Linked DNA regions of Homo sapiens. The protein of the gene in region 1 interacts with the protein of each later gene in a biochemical or structural test. Each region holds a gene or a part of one and is shown on either strand. Other genes may lie near its edges.

The links. Proteins that work in one complex are often made in the same cells at the same time.
Region 2: the proteins of ZYG11B (region 1) and ZNF701 interact in a test that uses a peptide from one of them, tested with the Homo sapiens proteins (2 studies listed by BioGRID, with this or other methods).

Annotation. Positions count from the first base shown.
Region 1 is NC_000001.11:52,722,060-52,729,460, reverse strand, and holds the start of ZYG11B (protein zyg-11 homolog B), read right to left. Parts: upstream 3,009-7,401; 5' UTR 2,808-3,008; coding exon 2,778-2,807; intron 1-2,777. UniProt on the Homo sapiens protein: Serves as substrate adapter subunit in the E3 ubiquitin ligase complex ZYG11B-CUL2-Elongin BC. Acts to target substrates bearing N-terminal degrons for proteasomal degradation with the first four residues of substrates being the key recognition elements.
Region 2 is NC_000019.10:52,565,888-52,573,290, reverse strand, and holds the start of ZNF701 (zinc finger protein 701), read right to left. Parts: upstream 3,005-7,403; 5' UTR 2,961-3,004; intron 2,628-2,960; exon of another isoform or gene 2,405-2,627; intron 1,055-2,404; exon of another isoform or gene 1,050-1,054; coding exon of another isoform or gene 923-1,049; intron 727-922; exon of another isoform or gene 613-726; intron 599-612; exon of another isoform or gene 81-598; intron 1-80. UniProt on the Homo sapiens protein: May be involved in transcriptional regulation.

The sequences.
Region 1 (7,401 bases):
CTGCCTTCTCCTCACCTCTCCCATACATACACTGTTACTCTGTGTGTATATGTTTTAACAAGCAAGGAAAAATCAAGTTAATTAGATGCAAAGTTTAAAACATAATCATGCCTAATATGTCTGCTGTGGTCTGAATTCTGTCTCCCTAAATTCATATGTTGGAATCCTAACCCCCAAGGTAATGGTATGAGGAGGTGGGGCCTTTGGGAGGTGATTAGATCACCAGTTAGTGCCCACATGAATGGGATTAGTGCCCTTATAAAAGAGACTCCAGAGAGCTGCCTGGCCCCTGCCACCATGTGTGAAAACAGTGAAAAGGTGACTTAGGAAGAGCCCTCACGAGACACTGAATCCACTGGGGAACTGATTTTGGACTTCCCAGCCTTCCAAACTCTGAGAAATAAATTTCTGTTGCTGACAAGCTACCTAGTTTATGGTATTTTGTTACAGTAGATTGAATGGGCTAAGACAGTATCTTGCTAGCCTCATTTCCTACTACACATCTCCATTCTTGCATCCTTCCATGCTATATAAGGGTAATACTACTTCCTACAATGCATCCTAATTCCTTCCTACTTTCTTTCTTAAAAAAAAAAAAATCCCTGTGAGGGGATCCTTTCTACTTGCTACTCACATTCACAATGAGGCATTCTTCCCCTTCCCAAAATGATCTATATAAATCCTATTCAACTTTCAGGCCCAGCTCAAAGGACACTTTTAGATCCTAAATACCTCAAAGGGGAGTTCATAACTCCTCCCTCTCATACATTCATTCTCAATGGAAGGGCCCACACTTTCAAAAATCTAGCAGTGTAATGTCTTAGGTAGGATAGCTCTTTATTCTGAAAAGTATATCATCATACCTCACTCAATATCATTTTTGCATCAAAATTAAGATTCTCTGCCCAGGCGTGATGGCTCATGCCTGTAATTCTAGCACTTTGGGAGGCCAAGGTGGGAGGATGGCTTGAATCCAGGAGGTCAAGACCAGACTGGGCAACACAGCAAGACTCCATTTCTACAAAAAGTTTTACAAATTAGCGGGGCACGGTAGTCCGTGCCTGTGGTACCAGCTACTTGTGAGGCTGAGGTGGGAAGATCACTTGACCTCAGGAGTTCAAGGTTGCAAAGAGCCATGATTGTGCCACTGCATTCCAGCCTGGGCCACAGAGCAAGATCGTCTCCAAACAACAATTCTCAAACTCACTCTTTCTGTGTAGTCCACTAGTTACCTCAAATTTCAGTTTAAGTTTATATTAGTCAGGTGGGAAATGAGACCATAAAGTGAATCATTCAAGCACCTAGCTGGCCTGGGCACTTGGAATAATAAGTAAGGAACGGTTGCTACCTAGAACTTACATTCCACAGGGAGAAACAGGTTAGCATACAACAACAGTGTGTGAAAGTGAAGGAGACAAACACAGGAAAATGACAGACTAAAAATGCAGGAGTGAGTTAGGGAAAATTCATAGATTAAATAATTTTATAGTATATTACTTTTCTAAAAAACTGCTGGAGGGAAAAAAAGAAACTGACTAACCTCCTAGGGGAACATAATTATCAGGACTTAGTTTTGCCTTATTCCTCCCAGAGACCAAAATTTAGCTTGTTGCATATGATGGAGCAATGTTTTCAATAAATGTACAGCAAACCACTTATAACCCAACTCAATGAAAAAACCAACTGAAGCCTCAACCTATTTTCAGACAGAAAGAAAATTTGCAAATATAAGGTTCTCCCAACTAAAGGCAGACAGGGCAAAACAAATGAACTCTTTAGAAGGTTTAAAGAGACTGTCACAACCTGCCAACCTGATTGTCAGTCCTCAAATGCCCTTGGTCTCTGCCTCCAAATGAAAACAAATCATTTGTTTTTAGTAATAATAGCCAAGCTTGTAAATAAGTATTTTTAAACTTCTCCAACTGCACCTCCACATTAAAAGATGCTCAAAATAAAAAAAATTCAAAACATTTTTTAGCTATTTCTGTCAAAAGACTAGATCTCTCCTGAGGTCACAGTATGCATGCTGGCCCTCACTTCACTGCTCTGTAACACACCACCACTTCGATTTTGCAATGACACTAGGTGAATAGGCTTCCAGGATCTCTTCAATGCCTCCAAAAACGAAAAGGAAGAAGCAAACCTATAAATCCCTATCTGCCCGCCCTACAGCTCCCGGGAAGCAACAGTCCTCAAATTGTTCCTGCTTAGACCCCTGAAGCCCGTAGAAGGAAATGGGGACAGCTGCGACGGCGAACCGAGCGAGGACATCCGATAAGGGAAGAGGAAACGTGGATGGAAGAGGACGAAGGGGAGAAGGAACACGGAGAGAAGGGGGCAGTGGAGATAAAATGGTGAAGAGGGGTGAGAAGAGCAAGGAAGAGCAGCGAAAACTAGGGAGGAAAGGGGGGAAAGTAAAAATCACATAAGAGGAAAAAAGGCAAAATGATAGAGGAGAAAGAAAGGAAGGGTTAGGGTTAAAGGACAAGGAGTGGGCGACAAAGGGAATGCGAAAAAGGCTGTCACTGGGGGTGATAAAAAGGATGTCATCGGGGAGAAGGGAGATTCAGGGGGTGTCACCTAAAGGGGTTCACCGAAGCAGGTGAATGGGGAAGGAGGAGCTGAACACCGAGGGGGCGGTAACGAGGGAGAGAGGTAAAGGCAGGGAGCCCGAGGGGACACCAGAGACAGGGAGGGGCAAGACCGCAGGGGCCAGCGCGACGGGCGGGGGCTAGGGTGGCGGGCGGCTGCGGCTAGGGCAGGCCTTGCTCCCTCACCATGGCTGCGCCGGCCTGGTCCTCGGGCATGCAGCCTCCGTCCTGGGTGCGGCGGCGGGCCGGACCGGAGCCCGCCCCCAGGCTGAGCCGGCGCGGAGGCTCCAGGAGGCTCCGGCGAGCGGCGGCTCCGGGCTTGGCCCAGGCCTCGGCCTCTTTCCCTCAAGCTAGGAGCGTAGCAGTAGCAGCCGCAGCCGCAGCCGCAGCCGCAGCCCGAACCAGAGCGCAGACTCCGCCCCCGCGAGGACCCGCCCGGGCGCGCGAGCCCGCGCCTGGACCCGCCTCCGCTCTCAATGCGCAGACTCAGACGAGGGGGTCCCGCCCCCCCCAGCCCGACCTCCAGCTTCTCCCCCTCCCAGGCCCTTAAAGGAGCCACACACCCCCAAATCCTAGCATCCCTTCAAAATATGAAAAGCTTTAAATATTACATCATGACGAGAGATTAGAGCATCGCTCACTTCGGTCACCTATAGACTCCTCTGTCATTCACCATCATTCTCTAAGATTTGGGCTTCTGGTTCACTGTCATTCATTACTACTATTGTCATAACTCTTGGTTATTTCAAAATTCGCTTAATTCTTCCAATCCTCTGGCCTCTCAGATTCTTCTCTAGGGATCATTCTTGGCTCAGCCTCTCACTCTCATGCTCATACGAATAATTGTAACTTCTCTACAATCTCAATTTTAATCCTCTAACTCCCATTGCAACCTTCTTCCTTTCTTTCTTTCTTTCTTTCTTTCTTTTTTTTTTTTTTTTTTGAGATGGAGTTTCGCTCTTGTTGCCCAGGCTGGAGTGCAGTGGTGCGATCTTGGCTCACTGCAACCTCCACCTCCCGGGTTCAAGTGATTCTCCTGCCTTAGCCTCCCGAGTAGCTGGGATTACAAACACCCGGCACCACACCCGGCTAATTTTTGTATTTTTAGTAGAGAAGTGGCTTCACCATGTTGGCCAGGCTGGTCTCGAACTCCTGACCTCAGGTGATCCGCTTGCCTTGGCCTTCCAAAGTGCTGGGATTACAGGCGTGAGCCGCTGCGCCCGGCCACAACCTTCTTCCTTTCTAGCTCACTCTGTCTGATAATACTCCAACTCCAAAAACTTCAACTCCAAGACCCCAAATCCATTGATCCAACTACCTTTTCGCTATTCCTCCCCACGCTGGCCTTATGTACTCACTTTCTTCCTGAAACAGCTTAGATTCTATCGTCCGTCATGAAATGGAATCTAATAGAATCTAAGCTGTTTGGGGAAGAAAGTGAGTACATGAGGTACATGAAGTCGATTTCTTCAGTATTACCTTCATTTCTCTAGTCGTTCTCTGCTTTCTTTGTACTGACAGAACTCCAGCAATGGAGTGGGTGGAGAAAAAGCCAAAAGTGGTTGACTGACTCCCCGTAAATTTGAGATCATTATTCTCAAGAGGCCATAATGAGTGGCTACCCTACCACATTTCTCCAGTTTCACACACTCTCCCACCTTGCTACATAACTATTTCAAGTCTCCTGTCTCTTCAAACCTCCGACACTTCCTCCCTCATCTCATTTAGCTGATGATTTTGCTTCTAATTCACAAGAAAATCAAACAAACCAAAAAGAACATCTACAAGTTCCCAGCACCCACCATGACTTCCAACGAACCTGTAACTCTGCTTTGATGCTCTCTCTGCCTTCCTTTCCTTACTACAAGTTAATTATTTGTCTTTTAGCTAACATCAAATCCTCCTCAGTTCTCAAGCATCTGTGCTAAAAGACCCAGATTTTATCCCCAATCACAAAACTAAATTTCTGTAAAATACAATCAAAATTAATTACTAGAAAAAATTAAAATTTAAAAACAAGCATCCAAAATGCAAGCCCAGATTTTTTAAACCTGCTTAACCATTTTAAAGTGTACAGTTCAATGGTATTAAATACATTCACATTGTTGTGCAACCATCCCCATCAAGAAGCTCCAGAACTTTTTATTTTTTCTTTTATTTATTTATTTATTTATTTATTGAGACAAGTTCTTACCCTGTCACCCATCAGGAGTACAGTGGCACAATCACGGCTCACTCAGCCTCAAACTCCTGGGCTGAAGCGATCCTCCCACCTCAGCCTCCTAAGCAGCTAGAACTACAGGCACATACCACCACGCCTGGCTACCTTTTTTTTTTTTTTTTTTTGTAGAGACAAGGTCTCACTGTGTTGCCCAGGTTTGTCTCAAACTCCTAGGCTCAAGTAATCCTCCTGCCACAGACTTCTAAAGTGCTAGGATTACAGACGTGAGCCAATGTGCCAGGCCTCCAGAACTTTTTTATCTTGCAAAGCTGAAAGCTTGTACTCATTAAACAATAACTCCCCATTCCTAACTTCCCCCAATCCCTCGCCATCACTGTTCTGCTTTCTATCTCTATGAATTTGACTACTCTAGGCAGAATTTTTATTATTAAACCCAACACGCGTAACATTTTTCTGTCAAATTGTTATAAAAGTTTCAAAATATTAATTCTGAATTGCTGTCACAAACTGGTGAAAAACCATTTCTAGATGGTCACTAGTCCATTGATGACACTTTGAGGAGCTCAAGTACTAGGTCTCATACCACGTCACTTTCTCAAAGACACCTATCCAGCAATTCTTCCTCTCACCTACATCGCTATTTTTCTGCTATTACCTCTCATTGCTATAGCAACATGATTTTATTTCTTCCATCTTAAAACAATCAAACAAAAAAACCCTCCTTAGGTTGCAGTGAGCCAAGATCACGCCACTGCACTCTAGCCTGGGCAACAGAGCGAGACTCCACCTCAAAAAAAAAAAAAAAACCCTCTCTTGACTGGACTTGACCCCCCACCTACTGCCCCATTTCTCCATTCTCTTTTCTGCAAAATGTCTCACAAAGGTGGCTTGTACATGGTCTCACTCTGTTGCTTAGGCTGGAGTGCAGTGGTGCGATCTCAGCTCACTGCAACCTTAGCCTCCTGGGTTCAAGCAATCCTCCCACTTCAGCCTCCCAAGTAGCTGGAACTACAGGCATGTGCCACCACGTCCAACTAATTTTTGTATTTTTTGTGGAGATGAGGTTTCATCATGTTGCCTAGGCTGGTCTTGAACTCCTGAGCTCAAGCAATCTGCCTGCCTTGGCCTCCCAAAATGCTGAGATTACAGGCATGAGCCACCTCGCCTGGCCTTGACTTCCTTTTTCTCATTTTCGGTGAGATCCTCTCTGGTTAAGCTTTTACCTCCTCCACTCCACTGAAATGCCCTTGTCAAGGTCACTAGTGGTGTCCATTTGCTGACACCAGTCAATTCTCAGTCCTCGTGTTACTTGACCTACCAACATCACTAGACACAGCTCATTACTTCCCCCTCCTTGGCTACCATGACATTTCACCCCCTCGGGTCTTCTATCTCACTGGCTGCTCCTAGTTTCTCCTCATTTCTCTGACCTCTAAATACTGTAGTACCCCAAGGCTCAATATTTCGACTTTTTGTCTTTTGCATGTACACTCCTTGATAATCTTATCCCAACACATTACTTTAAATATTATCTATGCTGTGATAACCCCAAAATTATATCTGCATTCTGAATTTCATACTTAAATATCTAACTGCCAGCTAAACATATCCCCTTATATGTCTAGTAAGCTACAATTTTTCTTAGTAGTTACTCAATAGACTTCCCCTCAAGTACCATGGATAAGCCAATAAATACCAAAGAGAATAGGACCAACAATAGTAGCTTAGACCAATCATGATTTACTCTCCGTCTGATCTGTGAGTTACTTTCCCTAAGGACTTCCTTGTAGTGGAGGAAAATCGTCATTAAAAATTAGAGTTCTGGGCTGGGTGTGGTGGCTCAGGCCTGTAATCCCAGCATTTTAGGAGGCTGAGGTGGGTGGATCATGAGGTTAGGAGATCAAGACCAGCCCGGCCAACATGGTGAAACTCCATCTCTACTAAAAATACAAAAGAAATTAGCTGGGTGTAGCGGTGCGCACCTGTAGTCCCAGCTACTCAGGAAGCTGAGGCAGGAGACTCGCTTGAACCCGGCAGGCGGAAGTTGCAGTGAGCCAAGATCACTCCATTGCACTCCAGCCTGGGCGACAGAGAGGGACTCCTTCTCAAAAAAAAAAAAAAAAAAAAAGAAAGAAAAAAAAATTAGAGTTCTAGCCAGCCAAGGTGGTTCACACTTGTAATCCCAGCACTTTGGGAGGCCAAGGCAGGCAGATGGTTTGAGACCAAAAGTTTGAGACCAGCCTGGGCAAAATGGCAAAATCCCATCTCTACAAAAAAATACCAAAAAGTAGCTGGGCATGGTGGTAGTTTCAGCTACTCAAGAGACTGAGGTGGGAGGATCACCTGAGCCCTGGAGGTCGAGGCTGCTATGAGGCATCATCACGCCACTGCACTCCAGCCTGTGTGACAGAGTAAGACCCTATCTCCAAAAATAAATAAATAAATAAGAGTTCTGCAATCAAGAAAGAATGGAGTCACAGTTGATTTGCTTGATTTGCAATCAATGAAGCACAAACAGATCAAAAATACATCCAAATTACCTAGGAATTTAGTATAATACTGAAGGTAGCATTTCAAGTCAGAAAGCAAAAGTTGGAATTGTATTTGGTGTTAGAATAACTGGATAGA
Region 2 (7,403 bases), on another chromosome or scaffold:
TCCAGCCAGGGCAACAGAGTAAGACTCAAAAATAAAATAAAATACAAATACAAAAATTAGCAGAGTATGGTGGCACACACCTGTAATCTCAGCTACTTGGGAGACTAAGGCACAAGAATTGCTTGAACTCAGGAGACAAAGGTTGCAGTGAGCCAAGATCACAAGACTGCACTCACAGCCTGGAGGACAGAGCGAGACTCTTTGGAAAAAGAAAAAAAGTGTGTTTCTGATGTGACTGACACAGAGATAATAAAACCTGAGTAATGTGATAGAGACTGATGGGCAGAGGGAAATTCAGTTGGGGGTGGGAGGGCATGGGAGACATTTCTGAGCCAGGACCTGAAGGAGAAAGGGACAGTGCTGTGAGCATTTAGAGAAATAGGGTAAGAGCAGTGAAAATGACCTGAGACGGGAAGGGTTTTGATGTTTGGGAAAAGAGAAAAGCAAATGTGACTGGGGCAGAGGGAGTCATGAGATGAGGGCAAGTTCCCAGGAGGAGCCTGGACAGTGGCAGGGGCCCTGGACACAGGGCTGTGGAGTGACAGTGAGGAGTTGGGCTTTTGTCCTGGGGAACACAGGAAGCCCATGGAGGGTTCCCTGCCAGGGACTGACATGATCTGCTTTAGATTTAGCTGTGACATCCTCAGAACGGGGACATTTTCACCGAGTCACGCTGAGAAGGTCTGAGATGAGTGAAAAGATGTAACGGAATTCTTACATGGTGGCCTGGAAGGGATAAAGGAAAGGGTTGGCCTTATCAAAACTATCCTTGAAAATTAGAGAAGCCTCTTTCACATACCTGGGATAAAGAAACTTCCTTTGCAAGTTCTGATGCCACTGATTCCCAACATTTAATTCTTCCTCACAAGAAAATTACAGTAACATTTATAAAATGCAGATGTACAAAGACACAGCTAGTTACCTTCAAAACAGGGAGGCTGAGTGCGGTGGCTCACACCTGTAATCCCAGCACTTTGGGAGGCCGAGGCAGGCGGATCACCTGATGTCGGGAGTTCGAGACCATCCTGACCAACATGGAGAAACCCCATCTCTACTAAAAATACAAAAATTATCTAGATGTTGTGGCACTTGCCTGTAATTCCAGCTACTCAGGAAGGCCGAGGCAGGACAATCGCTTAAAACCGGGAGGTAAAGGTGGTGGTGAGTAGGCCGGGCTCGGTGGCTCATGCCTATAATCCCAGCACTTTGGGAAGCCGAGGTGGGCAGATCACCTGAGGTCAGGAGTTCAAGACCAACCTGACCAATATGGAGAAACCCCATCTCTACTAAAAATACAAAATTAGCCTGGTGTGGTGGCACATGCCTGTAATCCCAGCTACTAGGGAGGCTGAGGCAGGAGACTCGCTTGAACTCGGGAGGTGGAGGTTGCAGTGAGCCGAGATCGCACCATTGCACTCCAGCACGGGCAACAAGAGCGAAACTCCGTCTCAAAAAAAAAACCAAAAAGGGTTGCGGTGACCCAAGATCACACCATTGCACTCCAGCCTGGGCAACAAGAGCGAAAGTGCATCTCAAAACAAACAAGCAAACAAACAAACAAAAAGCAGGGAAAGAGGGTCAGCTGTAGAACTAAGACATAAGCAAACTTTTTCAATCAAGAATGCTTGGGTGGCCAGGTGCGGTGGCTCACGCCTGTAATTCCAACACTTTGGGAGGTCGAGGCGGGTGGATCACCTGAGGTCAGGAGTTCGAGACCAGCCTGGCCAACATGGTGAAACCCCGTCTCTACTAAAAATACAAAAATTACCTGGGCTCCATCCTCACGTCTTATTTAATCTCTTGTTGCTCCTTCTCCCCAATTCTTCGATCGTCCTCAATCTCCATATATTTCCGCCTCTTATCCCATCTCTGCATCTCTGCCGCTCTCCCTGTTAAATTCTCTCTTCTCTGTTTTACCCCCCGTCCCCACTCTCTAGCACCCCAGATCCCCAGGCGTCCTCCCTGCTGTGGTTCTCCCTCTGTTCTCCTTGCCACCAGCACCACTCTGCTCTGTCTGCCCTGGCTCCAAATTCCTCCTCTCTCTCTCTCTCTCTCTCACTCTGATGAGCCTCCCTCTTTGCTGCCCCTCTCTACCTTGCTGTCTGTCCTTCATCTCTCTGTACATCTAGCTTTTCTCTACATTTCTCCAGTTGCTTTTCTCCTCCTGCTTTCTTATCTTTTTTTTTTCACTTTTGCTGTCTCTTGGCAAATCCCTCACCCATCCTCTACTTTGCCATCTGTTATGGGTCTTTCTCATTCTTCTTTTCTCTGTCTCAGGTTTTCTACTACTCTCTGTCTCCTGATCTCTTTAGCCCACACAATCACAGGAGGGTTTGAAGTAAGACGCCTGCATCCCAGAGAGGCTCATTTTTCAGGGGTTGGAGCTAGGCAGGCAAGAACACACCGTGTCACAGGACTGGCCCCTGGCACCTCCCCAACGCTGGCTCAAGGAAAGTGGTGACTGCTAAGGGGAGACTTGGGGTGCAGCAAGGCCCAGCATGAGGCGGGAGGTGGGGTGCGACGACGCCTTCGGTGGGGTCCACAAGATCCCAGCACCAGGCAGAGAACTCGGCCTCCCTGAGACTGGGATCGCGACGTTTGCGCTTCAGGCGCCTAAAGGTTGAGACTGGGAGGCGCCCAGGCGGAAATACACATCTCGGGTGAGGACTTTGAAAAGCGCGGGGAGGGAGGAGTTAAAAAACGGTTTTGAGCACAGAAACTACGCGATAGGAAGTGTATACAGCGCCCTGTAGCAGAAAGACTGGAGACGGGAACAGCCTCAGGGCGACTTTAAACACAAAAGGAAGCGACTTCCGGATTCCCAGGGGAACGTCTGCATTTGCTCTGGTTGAAGGAAGATGGGCGAGAATTTACAGGTCTGTGGTGACCCCACGTCCCAGGTACGGAAGTGCCGGGGATATGGGGAGTGCAGACTTAATACAACACAGAGCAAAACTCACCGCCGCGGTGCGACCTTCACTCCACGGGATCCGCTTCCTGGTCTGCGCGGATGTGTGCGCACAGGACTAAAGCCAGGCCTGGGTGGAGCCAACGAGAAGGTGGGCGGGGCCTGATCGAGGTAGAGGCGGGGCCCCAGGCGGAGAGACCTTGCCCTTTAGAACCGGCAGAGGGCGGGGCCGGGGCGGGACCTGTGCGTCTCTCAGCCTCGCTCCCAGCGACTCTATTTTTCGGGCTTTGGAGGCGAGAGCGGTCAGGAAGGCTGAAGCACGATTCGAAAGCCCTGGAATTGTCTGGAACGGGGATGCAAACAAGAATGTAAAATGCAAAGCCCTGCCTGGGCGGAACGTACAATTTCATGCTGACGGCCCACAGAACAGAACAGAAATCCTCTCCCTTTCTATTCTCCATTCACTCAGGAGGGAGAGTCCACCCTGTGCTCAGCTTCAGAGACTTCCCTAGGGCCTCCGCCTGGGATGCGCGACGGAGTGTTCAGGCCAGGGAGGAGTGAAGTCACCACCTACTGCTTAAACATAGCAGGAATGCGGCCAGGTGGGCGGGAGCCTGAGGGCCAGAGGCGGGAGGATCACTGAGCCTGGGGGTCCAGGCCAGCCTGGGCGACAAAGTAACACACCCTCCCGCAGGGCTCCCCTCATCGTCTCTTTTAATTTTTAAAATAAAATTTTGATTGTGTGAGATAGGGATACAACATTATTCTTTTCCATGTGGATATCCAGTTAATTGTCCCAGCACATTTGTGGAAGAGATCTATTACTTTCTTTTTTTTCTTTTCTTTTTTTTTTTAAGACGGAGTATTTCTCTGTCGCTCAGGCTGGAGTGCAGTGGTGACATCTCGGCTCACTGCAGCCTCTGCCTCCTGGGTTGAAGCGATTCTCCTGCCTCAGCCTCCGGAATAGCTGGCATTACAGGCACAGGCCACCATGCCCGGCTAATTTTTGTATTTTGGGTAGAGACGGGGTTTCACCATGTTGGCCAGGCTGGTCTCGAACTCCTGACTTCAAGTGATCCGCCTGCCTCGGCCTCCTGAAATGCTGGGATTACAGGCGTGAACCACTGTGCCTGGCCCAAGAAATACTCTTCACTTCGCTCTTAAATGTTGAGAAAATACAATTGAAAACTAAAAAAATCTTCCCCTAAATGAGAAATCATCTTCACGACGATAACAGAGAAAGAAATAAAAACTATTTTATTAATAAATAGGCCTTAGACCAGCATGTGATGGGAAATAGAGGACAGTTGAGAGGTTGAAAAGAGAGAAAGAAACTTCACTGTTCTATACAACCCAAATACATGTTTTCAAGATAAACACTGATCAGTCCTCAGGGAAGAGGACTTGACAACACCCTTGGTCACACATAATTCATCCTGGCTCTACTTGGTAATGGAGGTGACCATCTGTGTCAGCTAACTAGCATCATCCTGAGGGAGGGGGAGAAACCCTAACCCATGTATTTTTGGCAAGTGTGAGTTTTACAGCATGGCGGACAGGTGCCCTCTCTGGTGAGGCTCCTACAATCCAACAGAAACTGATGTCAGCAGTAAATAATGAAATTTAGAATACATTATTAATTATAGAGTTTATTTGGACACAAAGCATGAGAATAGCCACCTGGAAACCTCAACTCCAAATGAATGGGGTCAGCGTTCCCAAGTAGAGACATTAACATTTCACACACACAAGGAAATACAGAGAAGCTTTCCCAGAACCACCACATTTTCCATTCAAGTCCAGTGCATAGGCTGCGGCAGCTTGACTGGTGATGGAGTGATACACTTCAAGGAAGGTTACATTATCACTCCATAAGAAGGGACAATGATGCCAGGAGGTCTTATCTCTGGGGCTGCTTAGTTTTCCTAATTATTTACACGAAAACTTTTTAAAATTGATATTAGGAAACTAAATTGTATAGCACATTTTGTTTTGTTTTGTTTTGTTTTGGGAAGGCGTCCTGCTCTGTCGCCCAGGCTGGAATGCAGTGATGTGATCTCGGCTCACTACGACCTCCACGTCCTGGGTTCAAGCAGTTCTCCTGCCTCAGCCTCCCAAATAGCTGAAAATACAGGCGTGCGCCACCATGCCCGGCTAATGGCTTTGTATTTTCAGTAGAGACGGGGTTTCCCCATGTTGGCCAGGCTGGTTTCTAATTCCTGACGTCAGGCGATCCGCCCGCCTCAGCCTCCCAGAGTGCTGGGATTACAGGCCTGAGCCTGCATGCCTGGCCAGGAAAACTTGTAGAAGTTGCGCCTGCATGCCACCGGACTCAGGTTGCATGACCACGTTCCTCTCAAGGTTCCGAATTATTTAAAAGTCTGTAGCTTTAAATTTGAAATAGCTGATGTTTGAAATATTTAATTTCCTACTGACTTACAGGTACTATCTCCCTTGTTGCTTGCCTTTCAAGAAGAGATTCTAAGTCCTTCAGAAGTACATCTCTGGGTTATTATGCTGAAAAAAGGTTTAATTACTTTCTAAAATATTCTACTTCAGGCCGGGCGCGGTGGCTCAAGCCTGTAATCCCAGCCCTTTGGTAGGCTGAGGACGGCGGATGGCCTGAGGTCGGGAGTTCGAGACCAGCCTGACCAATATAGAGAAACCCCGTCTCTACTACAAATATAAAAATTAGCCTGGAGTGGTGGCATGAGCCTGTAGTCCCAGCTACTCCGGAGGCTGAGGCAGGAGAATCGCTTGAGCCCAGAAAATGGAAGCTGTGGTGAGCCATGATCATGACATTGTACTCCAGCCCAGGGAACTAGAGTGAAACTCAGTCTCAAAAACAAAATAATAATAATAATAATAATAATAATAATAATAATAATAATAATAAAAAATACAGCTGGACAAGGTGTCTCAAGCCTGAGCGAGACTCCGTCTTAAAAAAAAAAAGAAAAAAAAAAGAAAACTACCAGTTACACAGTAGGGCGACCTCAAAAACAAAGGGAACTGCCTTCTCTTAAAGTTTCTCTTACATAGGTGCTTAGGTAAAAACTAAGGTATGTCTACCTGCCAGTGGGCTGACAGTGTAACAAAACTTATTACTTTGTTGATTTAAAGCTATCCTTGGCCGGTTGCATTGGCTCCCGCCTGTAATTCTGGCACTTTGGAAGGCCGACGTGGGGGCATCACCTGAGATCAGGGGTTCGAGACCAGCCTTGCGAACGTGATGAAACCCCGTCTCTACTGAAAATTCAACGATTAGCCGGGGGTGGTGGTGCATGCCTGTAATCCTAGCTACTCAGGAGGCTGAGGCAGGAGAATCGCTTGAACCCGGAAGGTGGAAGTTGCAATGAGCCGAGATTGTCCTATTGCACTCCAGCCTGGATGACAAAAGTGAAGCTCCATCAAAAAAAAAAAAACACCTATCCTTGGTATTTTAGTGTGCAAGTACGTGAAAGCATGACTGTAATTAGCTTAGAAGCATACATTGTCATGGGATATTGGGTCATCTGGACATTGTGTTTATGTAGGAGTTTGTCCTTGCAGGTATGATTAAGCTGCTTTTCTTAACTGTAAACATCTTAAGACCATGAGTCATGCGTGAGCAGTAAGGAATGTATGTTGCTAGTTTTAATGGACTTGAACTTTGTCACCCTAGCTCCCCTAGGATCCTGTTTAACAGTTTATCCACTTATGCACCAGAGTCCTAAGCACAATTATGGAGACACCATCCTTTTGTAATGTATCTGACAGACTGAGCTTCTGCCCCAAGAACATAGTAATAGCAATACTAAGTGAAATATTATAAAGTTTTGTGTATCTATGTAATTATCTATTATTTGCGTTTTAAATTAGCTAAAGTTATATAGAATGGGTTTTTATTTCAATCTAATACTAGAAATATATCTTTTGGCCCAGCATAGTGGCGCATACCTGTAATCTCAGCACTTTGGGAGGCTGAGGCAGGTGGATCACCTGAGGTCAGGAATTCAAGACCAGCCTGACTAACATAATGAAACCCAGTCTCTACTAAATACAAAAGAATTAGCCGGGCATGGTGATGCATGCCTGTAATCTGAGCTACTTGGGGTGCTGAGACAGGAGAATCCGTAGTACCTGGGAGGCAGAGGTTTCAGTGATCCGAGATCGCACCATTGCACTCCAGCCTGGGCAACAAGATTGAAACTCCGTCTCAAAAAACAAAACAAAACAAACTATATATATATATATAAAATCTTTCACAAATGGACTCTAATCCCACAAAGTTGTAAAGCATTTCCCTATGGTGAATAAATATGAAGGAGTTGAGATTTTGGAACTGATTTGTGCTTTCCATTATACTCATTTTTTCCTTATTCTATCTTGATCTTTTCTGTGTTCATGAGCTTGTGATCCAAAAGTATCTACTAGGTCTCAATGAATTTAGAAATCTATTTTGCCAAGGTTAAAATGCACCCATGACACAGCCTCAGGAGGTCCTGATGACGTG